7 linked regions of the Homo sapiens genome follow. The protein of the gene in region 1 purifies or fractionates together with the protein of each later gene. This does not show direct contact. Each region holds a gene or a part of one and is shown in the gene's direction. Other genes may lie near its edges. The genes, in order: ZBTB48, CEBPZ, RBM28, APOBEC3C, MAK16, UTP23 and BMS1.

Evidence for each region.
Region 2: the proteins of ZBTB48 (region 1) and CEBPZ purify together in Homo sapiens (affinity purification with mass spectrometry; 2 studies listed by BioGRID and IntAct, with this or other methods). This does not show direct contact.
Region 3: the proteins of ZBTB48 (region 1) and RBM28 purify together in Homo sapiens (affinity purification with mass spectrometry; 2 studies listed by BioGRID and IntAct, with this or other methods). This does not show direct contact.
Region 4: the proteins of ZBTB48 (region 1) and APOBEC3C purify together in Homo sapiens (affinity purification with mass spectrometry; 2 studies listed by BioGRID and IntAct, with this or other methods). This does not show direct contact.
Region 5: the proteins of ZBTB48 (region 1) and MAK16 purify together in Homo sapiens (affinity purification with mass spectrometry; 2 studies listed by BioGRID and IntAct, with this or other methods). This does not show direct contact.
Region 6: the proteins of ZBTB48 (region 1) and UTP23 purify together in Homo sapiens (affinity purification with mass spectrometry; 2 studies listed by BioGRID and IntAct, with this or other methods). This does not show direct contact.
Region 7: the proteins of ZBTB48 (region 1) and BMS1 purify together in Homo sapiens (affinity purification with mass spectrometry; 2 studies listed by BioGRID and IntAct, with this or other methods). This does not show direct contact.

Annotation. Positions count from the first base shown.
Region 1 is NC_000001.11:6,586,387-6,589,780, forward strand, and holds the end of ZBTB48 (zinc finger and BTB domain-containing protein 48), read left to right. Parts: intron 1-190; coding exon of another isoform or gene 191-277; exon of another isoform or gene 278-308; coding exon 309-401; intron 402-818; coding exon 819-905; intron 906-1,091; coding exon 1,092-1,246; intron 1,247-1,673; coding exon 1,674-1,810; intron 1,811-1,891; coding exon 1,892-2,056; intron 2,057-2,369; coding exon 2,370-2,458; intron 2,459-2,529; coding exon 2,530-2,826; 3' UTR 2,827-2,894; downstream 2,895-3,394. UniProt on the Homo sapiens protein: Plays a critical role in transcriptional regulation and chromatin remodeling. Acts as a regulator of telomere length. Directly binds the telomeric double-stranded 5'-TTAGGG-3' repeat.
Region 2 is NC_000002.12:37,211,097-37,214,596, reverse strand, and holds part of CEBPZ (CCAAT/enhancer-binding protein zeta), read left to right. Parts: intron 1-635; coding exon 636-733; intron 734-1,042; exon of another isoform or gene 1,043-1,160; intron 1,161-1,917; exon of another isoform or gene 1,918-2,204; coding exon 2,205-2,262; exon of another isoform or gene 2,263-2,341; intron 2,342-2,557; coding exon 2,558-2,754; intron 2,755-3,422; exon of another isoform or gene 3,423-3,500. UniProt on the Homo sapiens protein: Stimulates transcription from the HSP70 promoter.
Region 3 is NC_000007.14:128,333,909-128,337,408, reverse strand, and holds part of RBM28 (RNA-binding protein 28), read left to right. Parts: intron 1-206; coding exon 207-278; intron 279-1,366; coding exon 1,367-1,562; intron 1,563-1,729; coding exon 1,730-1,866; intron 1,867-3,500. UniProt on the Homo sapiens protein: Nucleolar component of the spliceosomal ribonucleoprotein complexes.
Region 4 is NC_000022.11:39,017,257-39,020,852, forward strand, and holds the end of APOBEC3C (DNA dC->dU-editing enzyme APOBEC-3C), read left to right. Parts: intron 1-509; coding exon 510-789; intron 790-1,012; coding exon 1,013-1,131; 3' UTR 1,132-3,096; downstream 3,097-3,596.
Region 5 is NC_000008.11:33,498,472-33,501,762, forward strand, and holds the end of MAK16 (protein MAK16 homolog), read left to right. Parts: coding exon 1-158; 3' UTR 159-701; coding exon of another isoform or gene 702-806; 3' UTR 807-1,856; coding exon of another isoform or gene 1,857-2,019; 3' UTR 2,020-2,791; downstream 2,792-3,291. Other genes in the region: TTI2 (TELO2-interacting protein 2), read right to left, coding at 702-806, 1,857-2,019.
Region 6 is NC_000008.11:116,772,354-116,775,184, forward strand, and holds the end of UTP23 (rRNA-processing protein UTP23 homolog), read left to right. Parts: 3' UTR 1-2,331; downstream 2,332-2,831. UniProt on the Homo sapiens protein: Involved in rRNA-processing and ribosome biogenesis.
Region 7 is NC_000010.11:42,789,295-42,792,794, forward strand, and holds part of BMS1 (ribosome biogenesis protein BMS1 homolog), read left to right. Parts: intron 1-1,028; coding exon 1,029-1,217; intron 1,218-2,332; coding exon 2,333-2,475; intron 2,476-3,198; coding exon 3,199-3,320; intron 3,321-3,500. UniProt on the Homo sapiens protein: GTPase required for the synthesis of 40S ribosomal subunits and for processing of pre-ribosomal RNA (pre-rRNA) at sites A0, A1, and A2.

The DNA of each region.
Region 1 (3,394 bases):
CCCGCCGAAACCCAGGCCCACTCTTCCTAGAGGCCTGTCAGCAGCCACTAGGGCCAGGGACTGTGGGTGAGGCCACTCGGACCCTGCCCCCAGTCTGTCTGGGCCTGAGAAGGGCCTGGTGTGCGGTGGGCTTGCAGCACTCAGTGATGGTCAGGCCAGGCAGGTTATGTGTTGCCCTCTCCCACCCTAGCGTCCCCACCCTCCCCAGGCAGACTCTTCCCAGCAGCAAGCGGAAGCCCGGGCAGAGGCTGCTGTCATAGGCAGAGGCCCCCGCTGATGCCGGCCCTGCTTGCCCCTCACACTGCCAGGTCTTCACGTGCTCTGTGTGCCAGGAGACATTCCGCCGAAGGATGGAGCTGCGGGTGCACATGGTGTCTCACACAGGGGAGATGCCCTACAAGGTCAGGCTTGGCCTGTCTCCAGGGCCAGGGTTGGGTGGCCCCAGGATCCTTCCTGCTGAGCCCTTTACGTGGGGTGCTGTCAGGCACCTCCCTCACAGTAGCTGTCAGGGAGCCTGCCTTCCCTGCCTTCCCTGCCTTTCCAGTGCCCCCTTATCTAGGCAGGGCTACTGTCTGCAGCCTCACCTCCAAGGTCCTTATTAGGCCCTTGTTTCTTTCCATGGAGGACAGGCTTGGCATCCTCTGGGCAGCTGAGCCCTGAGGGCCCTCCTTTGCACCATCCTTCACACCAGATCAGGGGTCCTCCCAGAATCATCTCACCGGGGCCTCCCTCTAGTTCCTGCCCTATAGCCCAAGGGTGGGTGGCAGGGTTTCATGGGTGCAGGCCGCCCTGGAGGTGACTGTGGGCCTCTTTTTCAGTGTTCCTCCTGCTCCCAGCAGTTCATGCAGAAGAAGGACTTGCAGAGCCACATGATCAAACTTCATGGAGCCCCCAAGCCCCATGCAGTAAGTGACAGGGAGGGCTGGGCATGCTTTGATGCTGGCATGAGCAAGAGTGAGCTGTGCCCAGAGTGGGCAGCCGGCCATGTACTTTCTGTTGTTCGGGGGGGTGCTTGTGGGTCTCCCAGGCAGCCCTTCCCTGCTCTCACCCTGGCCCTGGTCCCTCCCTCTGCCTGCCTGGTCTGCCTGCAGTGCCCCACCTGTGCCAAGTGCTTCCTGTCTCGGACAGAGCTGCAGCTGCATGAAGCTTTCAAGCACCGTGGTGAGAAGCTGTTTGTGTGTGAGGAGTGTGGGCACCGGGCCTCGAGCCGGAATGGCCTGCAGATGCACATCAAGGCCAAGCACAGGTGCGTGTCGCCCGTTCTCTCTTGGGGCCCAGTCCTGCTGCCAGCCCAGGCTTGCACCGGCAGGGAAGACAGAGTTTGCTGACTTTTACACAGATGAGTGTGCCCTTGGCCTCCACCCTGAATCTAGTGCCTACAGCCTCTCTGGGATAGTGGGACCTGAGGGGCAAGCAGCTATGCCAGGCAGAGAGGCTGGGGGCAGATGTTTCAGGCTCAGACAAGCCTCTGTGCCCCCGGGGCAGATTCTGAGCTTCCTTAGTTTCCTGTGACTCCTGCTCATAGATTGTCCTTCTGCTCTCGGGGTGGAGGTGGTGCCCCTTTCCTAGCACTGCCCAAGCCCTCTTTCCACCAGGCATGCTCCTAGCTGTAGCAGAGCAAGGGGGTCACTTCCCTTGGTGATGGCCTCTGCCCCATGTCCCCACCTTAACAGGAATGAGAGGCCACACGTATGTGAGTTCTGCAGCCACGCCTTCACCCAAAAGGCCAATCTCAACATGCACCTGCGCACACACACGGGTGAGAAGCCCTTCCAGTGCCACCTCTGTGGCAAGACCTTCCGAACCCAAGGTGAGGTACGCCCTGCCCCTCCCCTCGCCTCCCCATCCTGAGGCCAAGGCCACAGGCTGAGCTCTTGCCTTGTGCCTGCAGCCAGCCTGGACAAGCACAACCGCACCCACACCGGGGAAAGGCCCTTCAGTTGCGAGTTCTGTGAACAGCGCTTCACTGAGAAGGGGCCCCTCCTGAGGCACGTGGCCAGCCGCCATCAGGAGGGCCGGCCCCACTTCTGCCAGATATGCGGCAAGACCTTCAAAGGTACCTGGGCGGCCCTGGGAGAGCCATTTCCTGCTCATCCGAGTTGGAGGGTCTCTGAGGAGGAAACGCTCCTTTCTTGCCTGTGAACCTCTTTTGTGCCCCACATGGTTAGAGTTGAGAGTGGACCTGCTTTGAAGGCAGGGGTGTCCTGTGCAGTAGTGACCCTGGGTGGCACTGGAGAGCCTGGCAGGGCCTGTGCAGCACTTGTAAACCACTGGTCCCCTCCCTTGCTGCCTGTCCCAACCTCCTGCTGGGTTTCCTCGAGGGTCCCGGGGCTCCTGCATGATCCCCCACGGTGTTCTCCCTCTTGCAGCCGTGGAGCAACTGCGTGTGCACGTCAGACGGCACAAGGGGGTGAGGAAGTTTGAGTGCACCGAGTGTGGCTACAAGTTTACCCGACAGGTAGGCCAGGGCCTGGGCCCCTTCCCCTACCCTAGGATCCCCCAAAGTTCTGAGCTCACCCTCCCCGCCAGGCCCACCTGCGGAGGCACATGGAGATCCACGACCGGGTAGAGAACTACAACCCGCGGCAGCGCAAGCTCCGCAACCTGATCATCGAGGACGAGAAGATGGTGGTGGTGGCGCTGCAGCCGCCTGCAGAGCTGGAGGTGGGCTCGGCGGAGGTCATTGTGGAGTCCCTGGCCCAGGGCGGCCTGGCCTCCCAGCTCCCCGGCCAGAGACTGTGTGCAGAGGAGAGCTTCACCGGCCCAGGTGTCCTGGAGCCCTCCCTCATCATCACAGCTGCTGTCCCCGAGGACTGTGACACATAGCCCATTCTGGCCACCAGAGCCCACTTGGCCCCACCCCTCAATAAACCGTGTGGCTTTGGACTCTCGTATTTCAGCCTGACAGTCTGTTCCCGTGTCCTGGAGTTGGGGAAGTGCTGCCTTCCCACCCACGCCTTCAGGAGAGAGTAGTGCCCTGCCCGGTCCTATGTGGGCCTCAGCTCAGCTGGCAGCTTCCCCTCCTGTCAGGAAACCTCAGCTGAGCGAGGCTTGGATGGGGTTCCTTTGGGGGCCAAACCTCTGGCCTTGGCTGCTCTCCACATCTGTATTCTGTTCCTCATTACTGCAGGATTTTAGAGTGGGGAACGCTGGCCAGTTAGAGCACCAGTATTCCTATTTTAGAGCTGAGGTGATACCGGCTTCTGGAGATAGAATTCATTACTAAGCTTCTGGAGTTCAGTAGAGTGATCAGGGCCCACGGGGCTGGCCTTGTTGGGCAGAATCAAGGATTGGGCCCAGTTAGTGTAGCTGAGCACGCCTGGGGGTCTGAGGAGGGTGGGGCCCTTCCTTCAAGCAGCCTGGTCTGTGTCCAGGAGGCTTTGGTCCCCACGTT
Region 2 (3,500 bases), on another chromosome or scaffold:
TGGGAGTTTTGTTAATTTAGCATATAAATTTTGTTTTATGCTTCTTTTTGGAATTTAGCCTTTAATTTCCTTTTATAATAATTTTCTTTATAGGCTTAAAATCTACCTTTAATATAGATTTTAATATAATACTTTAAGTTTAATATAGTGATAACTCATGGGTAATTTATCCAGACCATGGCCCTTAGAATGGATTCAGTGCACTGTTATAGAAATAAGTCCTAAACCAACTAGTATCATAACCTAATGCCTTAGGGTAGTAAAGTACCTCTTATCTCATCTGGTTGACTGGTTAATTAGGTTTGATTTGGCTTGTTTTTTAAAATCATTTAGAATGAATAATTTTGAGGGTTTGATTACATCTGTAAATGGCTAAGTTTTGCTGTATTCTAATATAAGAATAGGGCTGATAAAATATTATCTTTGAAATGTATTACACTTAAAAGATTCCAGCTACTTTTTATTGAGTTAAACTATTTTTTGTATATTAGATACAAATTTCAGTCATTTATTTCCAATTGAGTATACTTAAGATTTTACAGTTGTGGTTTGCCACTGGTCATAGGTGCTTTGATGATATATAGTAAGATTAGACCTTTAATAAAATTGTCAAATATATAACATGAATATTATAGGTATTATAAAAAAGTTGCTGTTAAAGAGAAACAAAAACGGGATGCAGATGAAGAAAGTATAGAAGACGTGGATGATGAAGAATTTGAAGAGCTGATTGGTAATTTGTTTTGTTGACTCTTTGTAAAATAATCTACTACTATGTGTTAATAGACCATGGAACATTAGTGGGAGAAGTGGCCTTAGTTTTAAAAAATCACTTAGCTAAGAATATCATGCAAATCACAGTGGAAGATTAAGAAATATTTGGGGCCAGGCGCTGTGGCTCACACCTGTAATCCCAGCACTTTGGCAGGCCGAGGCAGGAAGATTGTTTGAGGTCAGGAGTTCGAGACCAGCCTGGCCAATATGGTGAAACCCTGTCTCTACTAAAAACCCCAAAAAATGAGCTGGGCATGGTGGCACGCACCTGTAGTCCCAGCTACTCGAGAAGCAGAGGCACGAGAATCGCTTGAATCCAGGAGTCAGAGGTTGCCGTGAGCCAAGATTACGGCACTGCACTCTAGCCTGGGTGACAGAGTGAAATCCTGTCTCAAAAAAAAAACAAAAGAAACAAATATTTTTATGATATATGGTAATTCACCCACATTTGCACCAGAAAAATACATGATTTGTGCTTTGGATAGTCTATATAAGAAAACATTTATATTTGCTTAAGTCTATTCAATTGTTACAGCCAAATCTCATGTGAAAAAGAAATCCTTTTTACTATTCATAATCTATTATAGTATATCAGTACTAATTGATAGCAATAGTCTACTGTTTGATCTTTTTTATCTTTAATCCACAGAGCTACAGAAATTTTGATTGAAACTTAATAGACTTAAACAAAAAACATGGTAAATTGGAAAGACTTACACTGATTTCACGTTACATATTTTTTTGTTGTTGTTTTTTGGGGGGTTTGTTTGTTTGTTTTGAGACAGGCTCTCTCTGTCTCCCAGGCTGGAGTGCAGTGGCACAATCCCAACTCACTGCAGCCCTGCAGCCTAGACCTTCTGGGCTCAGGCGATTTTCCTGCCTCAGCCCCACGGGTAGCTGGGACTACAGGTACATGCCATGATGTCCGGCTCGTTTTTTTTTTGTTTTTTTTTTTGTTGTTGTTGTTTTTGTTTTTTTTTTTTTTTTAATAGAGATAGGGTCTTGCCGTGTTGCCCAGGCTGATGATCACTCCACCTCGGCCTCCCAAAGTGCTGGAATTACAAGCATGAGATGTTACATATTGTATCACACCTATTAAAAATGAGCACTTAAGTAGTTCTAATAGAGTAAAAAGGACGACAATTGCTAAATATCATTTTATTTGATATTTATCCTCTTTCCATAAAAGAACTGTAGAAAGAGCCGAAATTAACTGGATCCTTCTTTAGTTTTGGGATTTAACTAAGATCAGTATTTCACAGGTTTGTATACATTATTAAGGCACACTAGCAACAGTAACATTTACATTGTTTTGGTGTTCACTTGTCATAAACAGCAGAATCATGACTTAGAATAATTGATTCAGATACAAGATATATGTCAAGCTTGTCATTCTTTGTTGTATCTCACATTTCTGTATTGTCTGGCAGACACATTTGAAGATGATAACTGTTTCAGCTCTGGAAAGGATGATATGGATTTTGCTGGGTAACATACTTCTATCTTCTCCTTCCTATTTTTCTAGCATTTCCCAAATTGTTGTCCCTCAGAACAGTAGACCACAGAACTATATGATAAAGGGGAAATGTAGTCAAGTAAGTTTGGGAAGTGGATACAGTACTTTCATCTTTGACATTTATAAAGCACGTTATTATTTACTCTGAGCAGTCTGCAAAGCTTTCTCCTTCTGAGTCATTTAATAGCCTACTGCCCTAGTAGTCAGCAAAACACTACTTTAGAAAATACTGCCTCCTCTTGTATTACAAGTTGTGTTTTTTTCCAGAAACGTGAAAAAGAGAACAAAAGGAGCTAAGGATAACACATTAGATGAAGATTCAGAAGGTAGTGATGATGAACTTGGTAACCTGGATGACGATGAAGTTTCTTTAGGAAGTATGGATGATGAAGAATTTGCTGAAGTTGATGAAGATGGAGGAACATTCATGGATGTGTTAGATGATGAAAGTGAGAGCGTTCCAGGTAAGCATTTTTTAAAATAAGACATAAACTGTGTCTTCCTCACTTCCTTAGCCTTAAGTTTGTTTTTCTGCTAAAGGTTTTTAATATAGCCCTGTATTCAAATTAATACTCATGTCAGCCAGAAACTTAAAAGGACCTTTTCCCTTCTCGTTTGGAGCTGAAGGGTTTTTATTGTGTGTTATGTGTGTTTTCTTTTAAGCAGCTTTTTGAGCTTTGGACTTTTACTTTAACCAGCAGCTAGCTTCTCTGTACAATACATGTTGAGCTGAAATGCTGCCATTTTTTGATAGTAATTAGCAGTTTATAAAAGTTAATCAGTATTCATCATAGCCCAGCATAGATGAAGGTGAATATTTTATCTTGTAAATTAGCAAGGAACACCCAGAATTGTCTCTAGACTGTTGTCTGACCTTTCTGTCCTTTCACATACCTCCAGCATGCACATGCCTGCCCAACATTCTTCTTACTTATTCTGAACCACAGCAGAAGTTTCTTGTTTTAAGGGGTTTTATATTATTTGGTCTTATTAATGAAGCTATTTAGAAAATTTTGTACTTGCACAAAATATTAGAACTGTGCCAATTCTTAGAGTCTTTTTCTCAGTCTGTCCTCAAGCCTATGCTAGTGGAATTACAAAACCCACATGGAATAGCAGTATAGTGCCTTACCATCAGAATAAAGATTTTAGCATATCTTGGAGTAATATTTTCCAGTCTTATTGTTTTTAAATTGCTTATTAGCAAATT
Region 3 (3,500 bases), on another chromosome or scaffold:
GCAAAATTTCTGTTCATTGATAAAAAGGTTAAGGGTTAAAAGGAGTAGGCAGTGACTAGGAGCTTTATTTTAAGACCAGCATTCCCTGAATTGGCAGTTTCTTTGTCTCCACTGGTTCCATTATTGTCTGTGATGACTAGGGGTCATTTACAGAGGTAGGGTTTTTAAAAGGAGAGCCTTTCTGATGCCACTTTTCTGCTTGACAGGCCGGACAGTGGCTGTGGATTGGGCCGTGGCAAAGGATAAATATAAAGATACACAGTCTGTTTCTGCTATAGGTAAGATGTGGTAGTGTTGGGTGAGTAGGGGCGTTGTATAACCTGGGTGAGAGTATTGAAACAACTCCTGTGTTCATGATAAAAGTGTAAGAAAAAGGCTGGGTGCAGTGGCTCTTGCCTGTAATTCCAGCACTTTGGGTGGATTGCTTGCAGTCAGGAGTTTGAGACCAGCCTGGCCAACATGCAAAACCCCATCTCTACTAAAAATACAAAAATTAGCTGGGCTTGGTGGTGGGCGCCTGTCATCCCACCTGCTTGGGAGGCTGAGGCAGGTTCTTGAACCTGGGAGGCAGAGGTTGCAGTGAGCCGAGATCACCCCACTGCACTCCAGCCTGGGCAACAAAACGAGACTTCGTCTCAAAAAAAAAGTGTAAGAGAACCTGCTTATCAGAGTAAGACTATTGTGGAAGATTAACCAAAAGAATGAGACTGGGCTTTCAGGGAAAACTCTGAATTCCTGCTGGCTCAGAAGTGAGTCCAGGTCTGTTTGTCAATTCATATTGTACCATTTGGTGCTCTGGTCCCAAAACCTAGGCTCTTTTGAGTCTAAGCCCCTTCCTGGGAGTGGCTGTGAGTGAGCCTGAGTTCACTGTCCCCTTTACTTGCTGTTGTTTCCAGGCTGTGCATAATAGGAGTGATGGAACATTAAGAATAGAGAAACTTAAAACTTGAGGTTTATTTAGAAAACAATTGGCTGGTAAGCCACCAGGGTCTCAGAGAATAGAACGCACTGAGATTAAAGTTCATGGCTTGGCTTTGCCCCCTAGTGAGCATTTTGCTGGCTATGATGTACGAATGGTAGACTGCTTGGAGAGGCTCAGTTGCCACTTCTTTCAGTCTGGGCCAGATGAACCTTCAGACTGATGAATGGGACAAACTCTAAAGGAATCTGGGTGTTGAGAGTTTTGTTTATTTCTGTTTTTGCTTTTTCTTTTCTTTATACTTTCTCCTGTTATATGCAGTAAGAAAAATATACGAAATTCTGTAAAACCGATGAAACCAAGAACTTGGAGTATTGGTTACTTTTGTTAAAATAACATTGTTTTGGATATTAAATGAATTCCTCCTTTCTTTACCTCCCTCCATAGGTGAGGAAAAGAGCCATGAATCTAAACATCAGGAATCAGTTAAAAAGAAGGGCAGAGAGGAAGAGGATATGGAAGAGGAAGAAAACGATGATGATGACGATGATGATGATGAAGAAGATGGGGTTTTTGATGATGAAGATGAAGAGGAAGAGAATATAGAATCAAAGGTGACCAAGCCTGTGCAAATTCAGAAGAGGTAAGCAGCTCATCCTGTTCTGAGACAGCAGAGGAAGATTCAAGATTGTCTCCGAGAGGAAAAATTCTCCTTTTTCTGCCTGCATCATTGCAGAATTGACATGTGTAATGAAATTGAATAGGCCCTCTGTCAGCCCACCTCCTTAGTTCTGATCTGTGCCATTGCAGAGCAGTCAAGAGACCAGCCCCTGCAAAAAGCAGTGATCATTCTGAGGAGGACAGTGACCTAGAGGAAAGCGATAGTATTGATGATGGAGAGGAACTGGCTCAGAGTGATACCAGCACTGAGGAGCAAGAGGATAAAGGTTTGTTTGGATTTTCATAAATGTCTTTAGACTTTAAAAAAGTTACTGAAGTTACGGAAATGAGCATCAGTTCTGCTTAGATCTCTTTTTAAATAGGACTCTAAGGTGTTCTATCAAATTTATGTTTAAATGCTGAAAAGGAAACCTTTATACTCCTTTCTTCCAAAGGTTTTTTTGTTGTTTCCTTTTTGTTTGTTTTGTTTTTTAAGTGAGTTTTGGAGTGGTGTTTGAGGGTTAAGATTCTTAGGGAATTGAAAACCTAGCTTAATGCTGAGGTTCTACCTCTCTCTGGATTGTCCAACTTGATAGAATAACCAGGTAAACAGCATCTTATACAGATAATATAGATGAAACAGATGATATAACCATCTCAACATCAAGCTAGATTTTAAACAACTCCTTGGAGTTGAGATGGGGATAAAGAACTGTTTAGTCAGTTTGGACTGACATAACAAAATACCATAAACTGGGTGGCTTAAACAGCAGAAACTTATTTTCTCACAGCTCTAGAGGCTAGAAGTCCCAGGTGCCAGCTGATTCATTTTGGGTGCAGCTCTCTTCCTAGCTTGCAGACTGCTGCCTTCTCGCTATGTGCTTGCATGGCCTTTTCTTTGTGGCTTGACGAGGGGAGAGAGAGAACAAGTAACAGTGAACTCTGGTCTCTCTTTTCTTATAAGCACAGCAATCCTATCAGATTAGGGCCCAACCTTAAGACCTCATTTAGCTAGCCTCAGTTACCTCCCTAAAGTCTCTGTCTCCAAATACAATTATATTTGGGGTTAGGGCTTCAATGTATGAATTTTGGGGGAACACAGTGCGTTCCATAACAAGGACCTCTTTGAACATGTTGTAAAACTTTAGCCAATCCTTATTGCTACCTTTATTGAGAATAAATTCAACTTGTTTATTGAGGAAGGCAGGTCATTACAGAATGAGAAATGGCTAATAACTGGTTCTTTGATTTGTCTGGGTGGAGATTTTTATTTCAGCTGTTTTTATTCTGATTCCATTTCAGTAAGTCTGACATGTTGGTTTGACCATATAAGAAATCTGAGGAAATAAGCTTTTTCTGTGAGGAGAGAATGGTATACACCTTAGAATCAAAGAAGCTTCTACACTGAAGGGACTCTGAGATCCTGTATTCTACAACCCACAGTCAGCTGTCTCATGCCATTCTTTCACCTAAAAAACTTATAGGACAGATAAATGATAATGATAAAAAGTTAAAACACAACACAGAAGAGTGTAATACACAAAGTAGAAGTTTCTCACCAATCCTAACAATTCCCTGAAGTAATCACTGTTGTTTCTTGTGCATCCTTCCAGATATTTTCTTTGTATGTATAAGCTTATATGTCTGTTCTTGAAAACAAACAGTGAGTCTCCCTTATACCCAGATCCTCAGCTTCTTAGGGAACTTCCCCAGAGACAACCAAGGTTATTTGTTTCTTGTGTATCTATAGATATTTTAATACATTTATAAGCAAAATGCACACATATACACACACATATACACATTCAAAATGTAGTGTATTTTATAATTTGTGTGTGATTGTATGTGTATGTTTTTTCCTCAAAGTTTCCTATGTCCTATACAGTATTTCCAGAAAGTTTACACTGTCATAGTAGTATAT
Region 4 (3,596 bases), on another chromosome or scaffold:
AAGAGAGAAGGAGAAGGATAGAAGAAGGGAAACTCAATGAATAAAACACCCTGGGGCCTACTATGTAGCCAGAAAAATGAAAAGTAAAGAAATAAAATAAGGCTGTGCATGTGGTTTATGCTCATAGTCCCAGAGCTTTGGGAGGGTGAGGCAGGAGGATCGCTTGAGCCCAAGAGTTCAAGATCAGCCTGGGCAACATGGTGAAACCCCGTCTCTAAAAAAATTATTTAAAAAATTAGGCAGGTGTGGCGGCATGCACCTGCATCCCAGCTTATCAGGAGGCTGAGGTGGGAAGATTCCTTGAGCCTGGGAGGTCAAGGCTGCAGTCAGCCCAGATCCCACCACTGCACCCCCTAACCTGTGCACCAGAGAGAGACCCTGTCTCAAAAATGAGTAAATAAGGAAACGGCCCGGGGCTCCAGGCCCGCCCTCTGCTCCCATCGCCCCACCCCTGCACTCCTCCTGCTCCTGGTCTGAGCTCCCCTGTCCTCCTCCTCCTCCTTCGCCAGGTGGATTCTGAGACCCATTGTCATGCAGAAAGGTGCTTCCTCTCTTGGTTCTGCGACGACATACTGTCTCCTAACACAAAGTACCAGGTCACCTGGTACACATCTTGGAGCCCTTGCCCAGACTGTGCAGGGGAGGTGGCCGAGTTCCTGGCCAGGCACAGCAACGTGAATCTCACCATCTTCACCGCCCGCCTCTACTACTTCCAGTATCCATGTTACCAGGAGGGGCTCCGCAGCCTGAGTCAGGAAGGGGTCGCTGTGGAGATCATGGACTATGAAGGTGAGACGTGGGGGGCTGAGGAGAGTGGGTGCAGGAGGGACAGCATGAGGGGCAGATGGTTCTCCAATGCTGTGGGGCGGGTCAGTGTCCCCTGGGTGTCTGTGGGGACCGGGCCAGCGCCCACTGCAACTGGCAGCCTGGATACCTGGGCTGGGAGGGGAGGGCCCAGGGCCAGGAGAGAGGCCTGCTGGGCCCTCACTGTTTTCTCCTTGTTTTTTCTCAGATTTTAAATATTGTTGGGAAAACTTTGTGTACAATGATAATGAGCCATTCAAGCCTTGGAAGGGATTAAAAACCAACTTTCGACTTCTGAAAAGAAGGCTACGGGAGAGTCTCCAGTGAGGGGTCTCCCTGGGCCTCATGGTCTGTCTCCTCTAGCCTCCTGCTCATGCTGCACGGGCCTCCCCTCCACCCTGGACCCGCTCTGTTTCTGCCTGGTCATCCTGAGCCCCTCCTGGCCTCAGGGCCATTCCACAGTGCTCCCCTGCCTCACCGCTTCCTCCTCGCTCTTCCAGACTCTTCCTGCAGAGGCTCCTTTCTGCCTCCATGGCTATCCATCCACCCCCACAGACCCCGTTCCTCCAGCCTGCGTGCCCCTAACCTGGCTTTTCCCATCTCCCCAGCATAACCAAATCTTACTAAACTCATCCTAGGCTGGGCATGGTGACTCACGCCTGTAATCCCCCAGCAATTTGGGAGGCAAAGGTGGGAGAATCGCGTGAGCCCAGGAGTTCCAGACCAGGCTGGGTCACATGACAAAGCCCCATCTCTACAAAAAAAAAAAAAAAAAAAAAAAAAAAGCCAGATGTGGTGGCATGCATCTGTAGTCCAAGCTACTTGGGAGGCTGAAGTGGGAGGATTACTTGAGCCCGAGAGGTGGAGGCTGGAGTGAACAGAGATCGCGCCACTGAACTCGGGTCTGGGCAACAGATAGAGACCCTGCCTGAAAATAAATCGATAAATAAACTCAACCTAAACAGGTGTGAATATATGTAAGTTGAAAACCCGAAGTTTTGAGAAACATCCTTTGTAAATTTCATCCTATGAATTGGGTCATTCATGTCCTACCCAGCTAAAACAGAGGCCAGGAGCCAGGGAGGAAAAGCAGTCAGGCCACACAACATTGTTTCCGAAATGGACTTCTCTGCAAGCCTGACTCCTGAGACTGTGCATTGTACCCTGAAACCAGCTTTATCCATAGCTTCTGCGATAAATGGCTGTAAGTCTTGGACTCCTTGCTCCAAACGCAGCGACTCAGCAATAGAACCTCCCAGCTCCCAGCCCTTCCTAGTGCCCATGGGCTTTACATAGGGCAAGAGAACATTTCTCCTTCTATAATTGCCATCTCTTTGCTCTCTCAACATGGTGAACACCATCCGGACTCCGTGTATGTCTCAAATTACAATTCTTTCTTTGCAAATGAAATATGAAATTTAGAGGCTCTTCTAAACACTTTAAATTTGATTTGACATTTTCAAAGCAGATGTAAGTTTTAGAGAATGAGATTCTCCATAAAAATGACCCTTTCATGCTGTGGCCTCCATAGAAGATGTCCCAGGCCAGGTGCCCACATGGCAGGCATTTATTTTCTCACAGATCTGGAAGCTGCAGGTCCAACTTCGAGGGGTGGGTGGGGTTGTTTCCTCTGAGGCCGCTCCTTCTGGCTGGCAGGGAGTCTCTTCCAGCCGTGTCCTCTGTGGCCTTTCCTCTATGCACACGCACCTCTGGGATCTCTCTGCCTCCAAATATCATCTTTTTTTTTTTTTTTTTTTTTTTTGAGACAGAGTGTTGCTCCTCTTGTCCAGGCTGGAATGCAATGGCACAATCTGGACTCACTGCAACCTCCGCCTCCCGAGTTTAAGCGATTCTTCTGCTTCAGCCTCCCGAGTAAAAGGCATGCATCACCACACCTGGTTAATTTTGTAGTTTTAGTAGAGATGGGGTCTCACCATGTTGGCCAGACTGGTCTCGAACTCCTGACCTCAGGTGATCCGCCTGTCTCAGCCTCTCCAAGTGCTGGGATTACAGGCATCAGCCACTATGCCCGGCTGGGATCATATGTTCCACACATGTTTGTTCAATAAGCATGGACTGCAACCACCTACATGAATATTCATAGCTCCTCCTGTAGCCTGTTGAATATGTATGTTTAGCCAACCTCTTCAGCATAAAGCTCCTGCCCAAACCCCTCCTGCTCCTAAATGTCTGTCTCTGGTGTTAACCAGAGGCTGCTCTTCCCAGGCTGCTGGATGGCTACCTTGCAGGCTGTCACCCTTAACAAGAAATAAAGTGTCCTTTGCAAATGCATCCCTTGTGTAATTTGTAGGTCACCGCGCCATGGGAACACGCTACCATGGGAAGGGAGCTGTGAGACGCGCAGGGAGGCTCCAGACAGGCTGGCCTGGGACACCAGCCGCTGCCCTTCCATAACATGGGGACAAGAGAGGGCAAAAGTTCAGCCCAACACGGAGGATCTTCGGGCAGGAGATGGGGAAGAAGGAGAAGCAGGAAGGAAAGAGCTCAGTGTGGGGGCGCGCATGGCATCCCGGTGGGACATCTGAGGCCCACACCCACCTGCTGTCCCTCCCTCCCACGGTGGCCACCGAGGGTGAAGGCCTGGGGGGAGGCAGACGCCTGGCCCTTTACTCTCCCTCCCTGTCCCCATGGCCGCTGGGTGGGGGCCGTCTCTGGGATGATCCCCGAGGGCAGGATCCGGGAGTCCCTGCAGAGGCATCAGCCTGTCTGTCTTGATGGTGGAGTGGCGGCTCCAGCTGGGCGGGACCACCAGGGGAGGGGCTTGTGCTCTG
Region 5 (3,291 bases), on another chromosome or scaffold:
ATGGTAAATCCTCCAGTGAGGAGGAGGAAGAAAAGGCCCTTAGTGCGAAACACAAAGGCAAAATGCCCTTGAGAGGACCACTGCAGAGAAAACGAGCCTATGTGGAAATAGAATACGAGCAGGAGACAGAGCCCGTGGCCAAAGCCAAAACCACGTGATTTCCCTTTCAGCATTTATACCCAGGACTGAACATGCAGAACTGTTTTTTTTTTTTTTTTATCTTAAACACATACACACCTCCAGTTTTTGCTCTTTTGTGTTGTACTGAACACAATATTTGTGTTTTTATTATTTATGCCACGTCAGTGGGGCAAGAAATCTGGAGTGAGTGAAGAAAGCTAAGTTGTGAACAAGAGTGTTTTTATAGCATATGTGTTGAAGTAACAGCTTGTGCCCGAGAAACTTAACAGATGAGTTCTTGAATCTGGGATGAGATGACGGATGTAAATATTTCTAAATTTTAAATGCTACATTACTTGGTGTCCTTTTTTCTCCCAAACTTTATTTAGAAATGGAAGGAGTTCAATTTTTTCTTGTTCTACTTTCCCTATTCTTATGGAGGTAAAAGGAAAGGAAGGAAGGAAAAAGCAGCTTTCACTTACAAAGTTTCGTGTAAAAATATCTTTTTTTCTTAAATAACTCCATTCATACAAATTGGGATGGGAAGAAAATCCTTTCCTCTTGGGAAAGTAATACAAGTCTTAAGTTCCATTGTAGGGTGCGCCTTCAGAAACCTGCTGCACTTTTCTGATATAGTTCACCACTTTTCTGTCTTCACAGCTTTGGGGAATTTTGGCCAGGAGACCCTGAAACATGAAACCAAACAGGCTTTGATATTTTTTTTTTTTTAATTACTTTCCCCTTTTGCTTGATTCTTCTTCCTTGGTATCATATTCAAAGGAGGAAAGAATGGATGACACTTAGGGACAGGTCACTAAGCAGAATAGGTATTAGTTGGTTTTTTATTATTTTTAAATTTATATAGCTCTCATGTATTGAAGGTGCTACTTTAAAAACTGTGTTAATGTACTTGCAAATCTCCTGCTGGCTCATGAAACAGCAGAATTCCAGCCAAGGCAAATTCAGTTGGATCTAGGGCTTGAAAACTGCCCAAGATTAAAGAGCTAAGATGAAATAGTTTGAATAAACTGGTAAAATAACAATTCATACTATCTCTACATATTTTTAGGATATGAATTTTTTTTTCCTGCTGGGTAGATTGTCCAGTGACTTATGGCATGAATTTCTTTTCATGCTACCTTCAATCTTCAACTAAAGATTTCTAAAAGGGGTAAGAAATGAGGCAGTAGTTTATTAAATACATAGAAGTACACAGCTATTATATGCTGTGGCTTTGAGAAGTTAACTTTTGTGGAATATGAAACCAAAGGAAGAATTTCCATGTAGATAAATTAAGAATAGGGAAAAACATCTACCTAAAAGATGGTTGTCCCTAAAAAACTGGAAACATCTGAAATGCTCTATTTATGTTATTATTCCTGGGAGCTTATAGCCCATTATTTTTACTTTTTTTTTTTAATTCAGAAGACTAGAACAGAACTTAAATTTTACAAACTTTTGATCATAATGCTTTTGCCCATACTGTCTCGTCCTTAGCCCCAGTGACATGTGCTGATCCTCCTGCCTTTAGTTCTAAATGGTTCTGAATAGCTTTAAAAGATGAATAAGAAAAAAGATCAAGCTCTTTTGAGGCTAGAGGGCTCATATGGAGATCTAAAACCCTCCATGTTCATTTCCAGACTTGGTCAGGCACATACATAGTAAATTATAATCAATCATGGGAATTACATAAGGATAATGAGGCCCAACTGAAACCAAGTTTCAGTCTGCCTTACCTTTACCCGTCCTTGAGAACAGCGGTCCAGGAGAATCAGGCAGTCTGTGGCCTCCTGTAGCAGGGCGCTCTTAACAGACTCAGGTGTAAGGTTTGGATCCCTTGCTACATCACAAATCAGTTTCAAGAGGGCCTTCAGTAAGACCACAAGTCTGCAGGAAACTCTGGAATCAGGAAGAAAAGCTATGTTCATACTCTAAATCTGGATATTAAAATTGGAAGAGACTTCAAAGACTGTCAAGTGGAAAGCTATCATTTCCTAAATTAAGGAACTTAGGTCAAAGTTAAATGAAAAAGACCTAAAAACAGAACCAAAGACAGCCTCTAGATTTCTTACCCTCAAGTCTCCTGTTAGCATACTGCCTATACACACAGACACACCCTCTGCCACACTGCTCTCTTCCTTCCAGAAGCTTGGTTCTACTGTAAGCAACAGCTCCTTCATGGGCTGAGAAGGGGAAACCAGGATCTCCCCAACCAAGGGCCTATACTTTTATTTTTCAACTCTATTAACTGAACTATGCTTGGAGAGAGCCCTGAATCCTTTAACTTTAATGCCATCTTAGGCCTGGAAGTTAGAGTGAGGGAAATGAGCTTGGCTTCTGGGACTGTGTCAAGTTGAATTTTCTGTCATTTAATTTCAGATCCTAGCTCATCATCAGTGAAGTCCAGCCTACTTACTTGTAACTATTAACCTTTCTAAAAGTTTTCATCGCCTTGGTAAAGCTCCAGAAATGGACAATGCTAGTGACTGCACAATATTGTGACTGTACTTAATGCCACTGAACTGTACACTTTAAAATGGAAAATTTATATGTATTTTTACCACAATAAACAAAAAACCCTAAAAAAACTTTAATGAAAGGTGGAAAATAATTTAACTTACAATGTGAAAATACAATGTGAAATGTACAATAAATCATATTTATGGACAGATGCGTGACTGGGAGAAAAAAGTTTTCATCTCTATCTAAATACTCCTCATTTTCCTATGGTTTGGGTGCCTCTCAGCCCTCGTTATTCAACTTATAATCGGCTCTGTTTTCCATTTCCCATGCTTCACCCCCTCATACGCATACACACATATTCCTTTTCTACCTCCCTACATTTATTCACTCTCCCTTCTTGGAATCTTGGTCTCTGCTCTTTAAAGACCTGACAATCTGATTCGATTTTATTCATCCATTGATTCATTCTCTTCCAGTCCATTCATTCTTTGAATATTTGTATACCTAATACTAGGTACTGAACATACTTTGGGAGAATATAATAGATGTGGTTTTCCGTTATCCTGGAGATTATAATTCCGTAGGGAGAAAGATAGTAAACAAATGCAACCTAGTTACCAATATGACTAAGGGAAAGGTTGTCATGGGGAAATGTTACTCTGGATTCCTTGCACATTTATAAGGAAGTGAGAGAATACGGTGCAGAAT
Region 6 (2,831 bases), on another chromosome or scaffold:
TGTGACAAAAAAAGAGGCAGTCCCTCTTTCACATTGACAGAAGAAACTTCCTCTTTCAATTCTAGTAGTTGAAGAATTTATATTTCCAAATTGTATGATTATACCGCTACTTTTTGATACATCAATTATTTATTGACTTCCTACTAGAAAGAGTGAAATTTTGCCCATTTATACTGCACCATTTTTCCAGTATATGAATATTTTACTCTTTGTACATCAGAAACTCAGTATTTTCATTATTATGACTAGAGTTTTTTTGTTTGTTTGTTTGAGTTCTACTTGTCCAATAAGGATGATGATTTTCTTTTAGATGTAAATGTTAACTTCAATAGCAAGAATTCAAAAATAATATTCTCTTTGAGATTGACTGTGAATGTTATTGAAAAGTGTCTAAATTAGTCTGAGGATCAATGAGGGTCAATTCAGTTAGGAATTGAATAATGAAACGTGTCTCTCTGAATTCCCCCGGCAATTGTTTTAGTCATTTATCAGGCCAAAATTAAAATGTTTTTGTACTACAAGATGGAAGTATAAAATTATTGGACAAGTGAAATCGTATCAGTAGTTCCTGACTGACAGCTTCTGGAGCCACACTAGAGCAGTGATTCTCAGTCTAACATTAGGTTATCATGATGACGTATGAGTAAATTCTTAATGGTTAAATGTGAGACAGTTCACATTTATTCCCATAGAAATGTCATTCTCATTTGAATTCAGAGATACTTCTTTGCTGGAAGTTGGAATTATAGCTTTACACCAAGGAGTGACACGTAGACTAATCTGGCAAGCCAAGGTAGTGTTTGGATTGCAATGTCATGATTCTATTTTAAATTCTTGATGGTAGAAACATTTTTAATAAGGAAGGTAAAAATACTGGAAAAAAGTGAATAGTGTAGGTTTTGTGAGGAAAGTTAACATTTGTCAATGACAAGCATTAAGGCCACCTAATAAAGTGTAGACAAAGTGATAAATGAAATATACACTGATGATACTCATTTCAATATGCTAAAATACATTAAATTTAGGTATTACTCTTAATCTATTTCTACTTAGTCAGTGCTATCTGATTACCTGTTAATAGCATCTGAACTGGAGAGCTGGAAAAATCCACTTTTTTATGAAGCAGTAATTATAGAAGTACTAAAAATTACAATGTATTAGTAAGTTTAATATTTTGACAGGGCATGGTGGCTCACACCTGTAATCCCAGCACTTTGGGAGGCCGAGGCTGGCAGATCACAAAATTAAGAGATCAAGACCATCCTGGCCAACATGGTGAAACCCTGTCTGTACTAAAAATACAAAAATTAGCTGGGTGTGGTGGTGTGCGCCTGTAGTCCCAGCTACTCGGGAGGCTGAGGCAGGAGAATCGCTTGAACCCAGGAGGCGGAGGTTGCAGTGAGCCAAGATCATGCCACTGCACTCCAGCCTGGTGAGAGAGTGAAACCCCGTCTCAAAAATAAATAAATAAATAAGTTTACTATTTTAAAACTGGTTAATCATTTATGTATTTTGCCAGTAAAATTACTTTAAAAGATATTTTAACAAAAGTCTCATATCCTTGTACTTCAGTTTTTTTGTGTGTGAATACTATCCCTATACCACTACCCCTAAAACCTCAGAATTATTTGCTTTATTTTTTCATACAACTTGGGGAAGGGAACCATGGGAGTATGCACATGGGATCATAATCCATTCTGTGGTTTGGAAAAAGAAAATGTTAACCTCTGCTTTAGAGGGTAGCTACTAGCTTTGTTGGGGATAAAAGTGTAATACATGCACTTTTGAACTCTGAAAGTTTGCCAATCTGAAAAGGGGTGTTTCTGAAGACCACTATCTTTTACGAACACTTAAAAATAAGTGTTTGCAGTTGTGTATGGGCACGATACTGTATTCTTTACATTTTTATGGCCCTACAGCTACTTCTTATCCCTGCAAGTATATAAATTAAAACCAAGTCACTTTAGAACAGCTTTGAAACTAGAGTTTCAAAGGTAAAAGGATCTCATGTTTCTGAATCTGCGTAAAGCAAGATGGCTGTGATTTGACAGGTTTAATTGCTAGTTTTTTATAGGTGGATAGAAATGAATAGTTTGGAGTCTTTAAAATGTTTTAAAAAATGTTTGCTTACTATCTATATATATGACATTATTCCCAATTAGTTTTATATCTCCAAGATATATATATGTATATAGGTATATACACATATGTATATATACATAGTCTATATATTCTATATAAGAATATATTCCAATAAGAATATATTCCATACGGGAATATATTAGTCATTGATGTATTTTGCCGGTAAAATTAAAAGATATTTTAACAAAAGTCTCATCTCCTTGTACTTCAGTTTTTGTTTTTTTTTGTTTTTGTTTTTGTTTTGTGAATACTATCCCCATACCTATATTCCATACAGGAATATAGTCTATATATTCCATATAAGGATATATTCTATATATTCCATTTAATATATTCTATAAAAATATATATTCCATATAAGAATATAGAATGTATAATACACGAATTTGTACTGAGTAGAATGTGTCAATACATATTTGTTGAATGAATGAAAATGAAGGCCAAGTGTGGTGGCTTATGTCTGTAATCCCAACATTTTGGTAGGCCAAGGTAGTAGGATCACTTGAGCACAGGAGTTTGAGACCAGCCTTGGCAACATAGGGAGATCTCATCTCTACAAATAATCGAAAAATTGCCAGGTGTGGTGGCATGTGCCTGTGGTCCTAACTACATGGGAGGGTGAGGTGGGAGGATCACTTGAGCCTGGGAGGTTGACATTGTAGTGAGTCTTGATCATGTCACTGCACTAC
Region 7 (3,500 bases), on another chromosome or scaffold:
TGCCTCAGTCCACAGTAGCAGCTGTGCTTTCTCACAAGCCCACCTTCATATATTCTGTGGTTTCGGATTTTGAATGTTTCCTAGTTTAATCAAAGATGGGCATTTCTGTTTCCATTTTTTTTGTTATTTTTAGTTATCTATGCAAAGATAAGAACAGAAATGTTTTTAATACTTAAACTAGAAATTTCCAGGAATCAATTCTGAAATTATTTTGCATCTTTGAAGCATCTTAAATTTTAAAAATTGGTCTCATCTGCTTATATTTTCTTATAGACTACCATTCATCGTAATCTTACTGTTTTTTTTTTTACCTAATTCTAAACTGGTAGCTATTTAAAAAAAATTTCTGAGCAATTGAGTTATCCAAATTAACATATAAGATAGAGGTTTCCACTGCATACTTCTCAACAAAAAACAGATTGTGGTTTTTTTTTCTATGAGGCGATTGAAAGAAGAGGTTGGTTTTCTGTACATATTTAATGTATTTCATTGATTATGACTCTCTTCCCATTCTTTGGATGCCAGAGACCTGTTATTTGGCTTAAAAATACCTTACAGAAAACTTGATTTCTTTAAATTAGGATTTCTTAGGTAAGGGCCAGGTTAGACCCAGCCTTTTCTGAGTTACTTCTCATACATTAAAATTCTTATAATGGAAGTTTATATCCTAGTGGACATTGTCTTATGGGTTGGCTTTTAGAGCAAGTCAGAGGGTGGTGGTTTCTCTGTCTGGGTGATGCCTGTGTAGTCATTTGATTTAGTCTGGAGTGCAACTTTTCCGTCCAGGGCCAGGTAGTAGATATTTTTGGCTTTGTGGATCATATCTTCTGCAGCTACTTAGCTCTGCAGTTGTAGTGCACAGGCAGCCATAGACAATATGTAAATGAATTAATGTGGCTATGTTCCAATAAAACTTTAGTTACAAACACAGGTGATGGGCTGGATTTTGCCCGTGGCCAGTTGCCAACCCTTAGTGTAGGTGGTCTGTTTTGGTAGTTTCTTTGAGAAATTATGTGTTCTGCTTTTAGGTACTGATGCTTATAGATGCCAGCTTTGGGTTTGAAATGGAAACGTTTGAGTTTCTAAACATCTGTCAAGTACATGGCTTTCCTAAAATTATGGGAGTTCTCACCCACCTCGACTCCTTCAAGCATAATAAGCAACTGAAGAAGACAAAGAAGCGATTAAAACACAGGTTCTGGACGGAAGTTTACCCGGTACGAAGAGAAATAATTGTTGGATACTAACAGTATAATCCTTTTAAAATAGACTGAAGAGGCCGGGTGCAGTGGCTAACACCTGTAATCCCAGCACTTTGCAAGGCAGAGGCGGTCGGATCACTTGAGCCTAGAGTTTTGAGCTCAGGGCAACATGACCAAACCCCATCTGTACTAAAAATGCAAAAATTAGTCCGGTGTGGTGGCGTGCGCCTGTAATCCCAGCTACTCAGGAGGCTGAGAAGTGAGAATTGCTTGAACCTAGGAGGCAGAGGGTGCAGTGAGCTGAGATCACGCCACTGCACTCCAGCCTGGGTGACACAGTGAGACGCTTGTCTCAAAAAAAAAAAATACTAAAGAGACATTACTAAACGTCTCTCTAGGATTCGCCTCCTGAATTTCCTTTGTGTGTGTATTCACAGTCCCTGGCCTCCTGAATTCCTTTGTGTGTGTGTTCACAGTCTATGGACTGCTGAATTCCTTTGTGTATGTGTTCAGCCTCTGGCCTGCTGAATTCTTTTGTGTGTGTGTTCACAGTCTCTGGCCTGCTGAATTCCTTTGTGTGTGTGTTCACAGTCTCTGGCCTGCTGAATTCCCTTTGTGTATGTGTTCAGTCTTTGGCCTGCTGAATTCCTTTGTGTGTGTGTTCAGTTTTCTGGAAGGTTTCCCTCAAAAGAGTGCTTGTTTGGGGCCTCTTGGTGTATCTCATTTGTCTCTCTCTGTACCTGCTGCACCAGGCAGTGTCTGGCTGTTTTGGGGTCAGGACTTAATAGAGTACCTCGGAAGTTTCTCCCAGTTACAGGACCAGGCACTGCCCCTTCCTTTCTATACTGCTCTGGACCATTGGCCACAGAACCGTTTCTGTGCTCAGACGCCTCACCTCCCTCTCCTCACCATACTTAGATGGATGCCCCGGCTCGGCTGCAGAGCAGTCTGCCTCTGTGGGGTTCTAATAAATCCTGAAAGAAGCCAGCAAGGCTCTGGAAGCCTCAGGACAGTGGCTTTGCTGGAAGTCTCCCTTCTTAGGATTGCTTCTTGTTTAGAGCTTTTATTTTGTTGCAGTATTGATGATAATTTAATTGAAATTTAATTTTTAATTTTCCTCTAATGTTTAGGGTGCCAAGCTGTTCTACCTTTCTGGAATGGTGCATGGAGAATATCAAAACCAAGAAATCCACAATCTGGGCCGTTTTATTACAGTTATGAAGTTTAGGCCTCTCACATGGCAAACTTCTCACCCTTATATCCTGGCAGACAGGTAAAATATGATTTTAAGCTTTTTCTTCCTGGGCCATATATTTCAAAGCTAAAAAGGCTAGAAAAAGAACAGTGATAGGATTTATTTTGTGCCGATTTGAATAGGGGGGATAGAAGTGTAGTTGATGGAAAATGTCTACTTATATCATTGCTCAAAGATGCCGTGCCTTTGGGAGTAAATTAATTATGAGATGTTAAGGAAAATGGGAGAACTTGGAAGTATTTAAGGCTACAGGATGTGGCCCCATCCTACGTTCAGCCTCAGTTTTCAGTGATGCTGCCTTCATGCCCGGGTGCTTGAGTCCTTCGTGTGTGCCTTCTGTTTCCTTCCTTTGTGCTCTTCCTCGTGTGGTTTTCTCAGCCTGGAATTCCCTTTTTCCACCTGCCAGAATCCAAGCCACAGTAAAAATCCCAGAGCACAGGCTCGCCCTCTTCCAGAAAGGGATTTTCTGAATATGTTCTTCACTCTTCCCCGACCCCAGGTGGACGTCATCTCCCTGTCTGGTGTCTTATGGAATGAATATCACTTTCAGCCTAGAGACACAGTTGTGTGTCTGCCCCTTTTCCTCTGGTGGATGGTGAATGGTGCCTCCTTATTTCTGCATTTTCTAGTTTTCTAAATGACGTGCTTAATGGACAAGAGTGTGATGAATCATTGACACATGAAAGGAGGTATAGGAACTTTTGGCATTCATTTCTGCTGTGATTGAATTTATTTTTCTAGGATGGAAGATTTGACAAACCCAGAGGATATCCGAACAAACATCAAATGTGACCGGAAGGTGTCACTTTATGGTTATTTAAGAGGAGCACACTTGAAAAATAAAAGCCAAATTCACATGCCAGGTATTCTCTTGTTGTAGAACATACTAGAATTACACATAGGATTCTTGGGATGGCTTCATTTCTCAGGAAAACTGAAAAATGACCAAACAAGGGAAGATGGCCTTGCTGGAGGTTTTAAAAGTAAGCCACCTATGTGTAGGCCTGCAAAGGTGTTACTGAATCCCCTCTTCTCTGACCTCT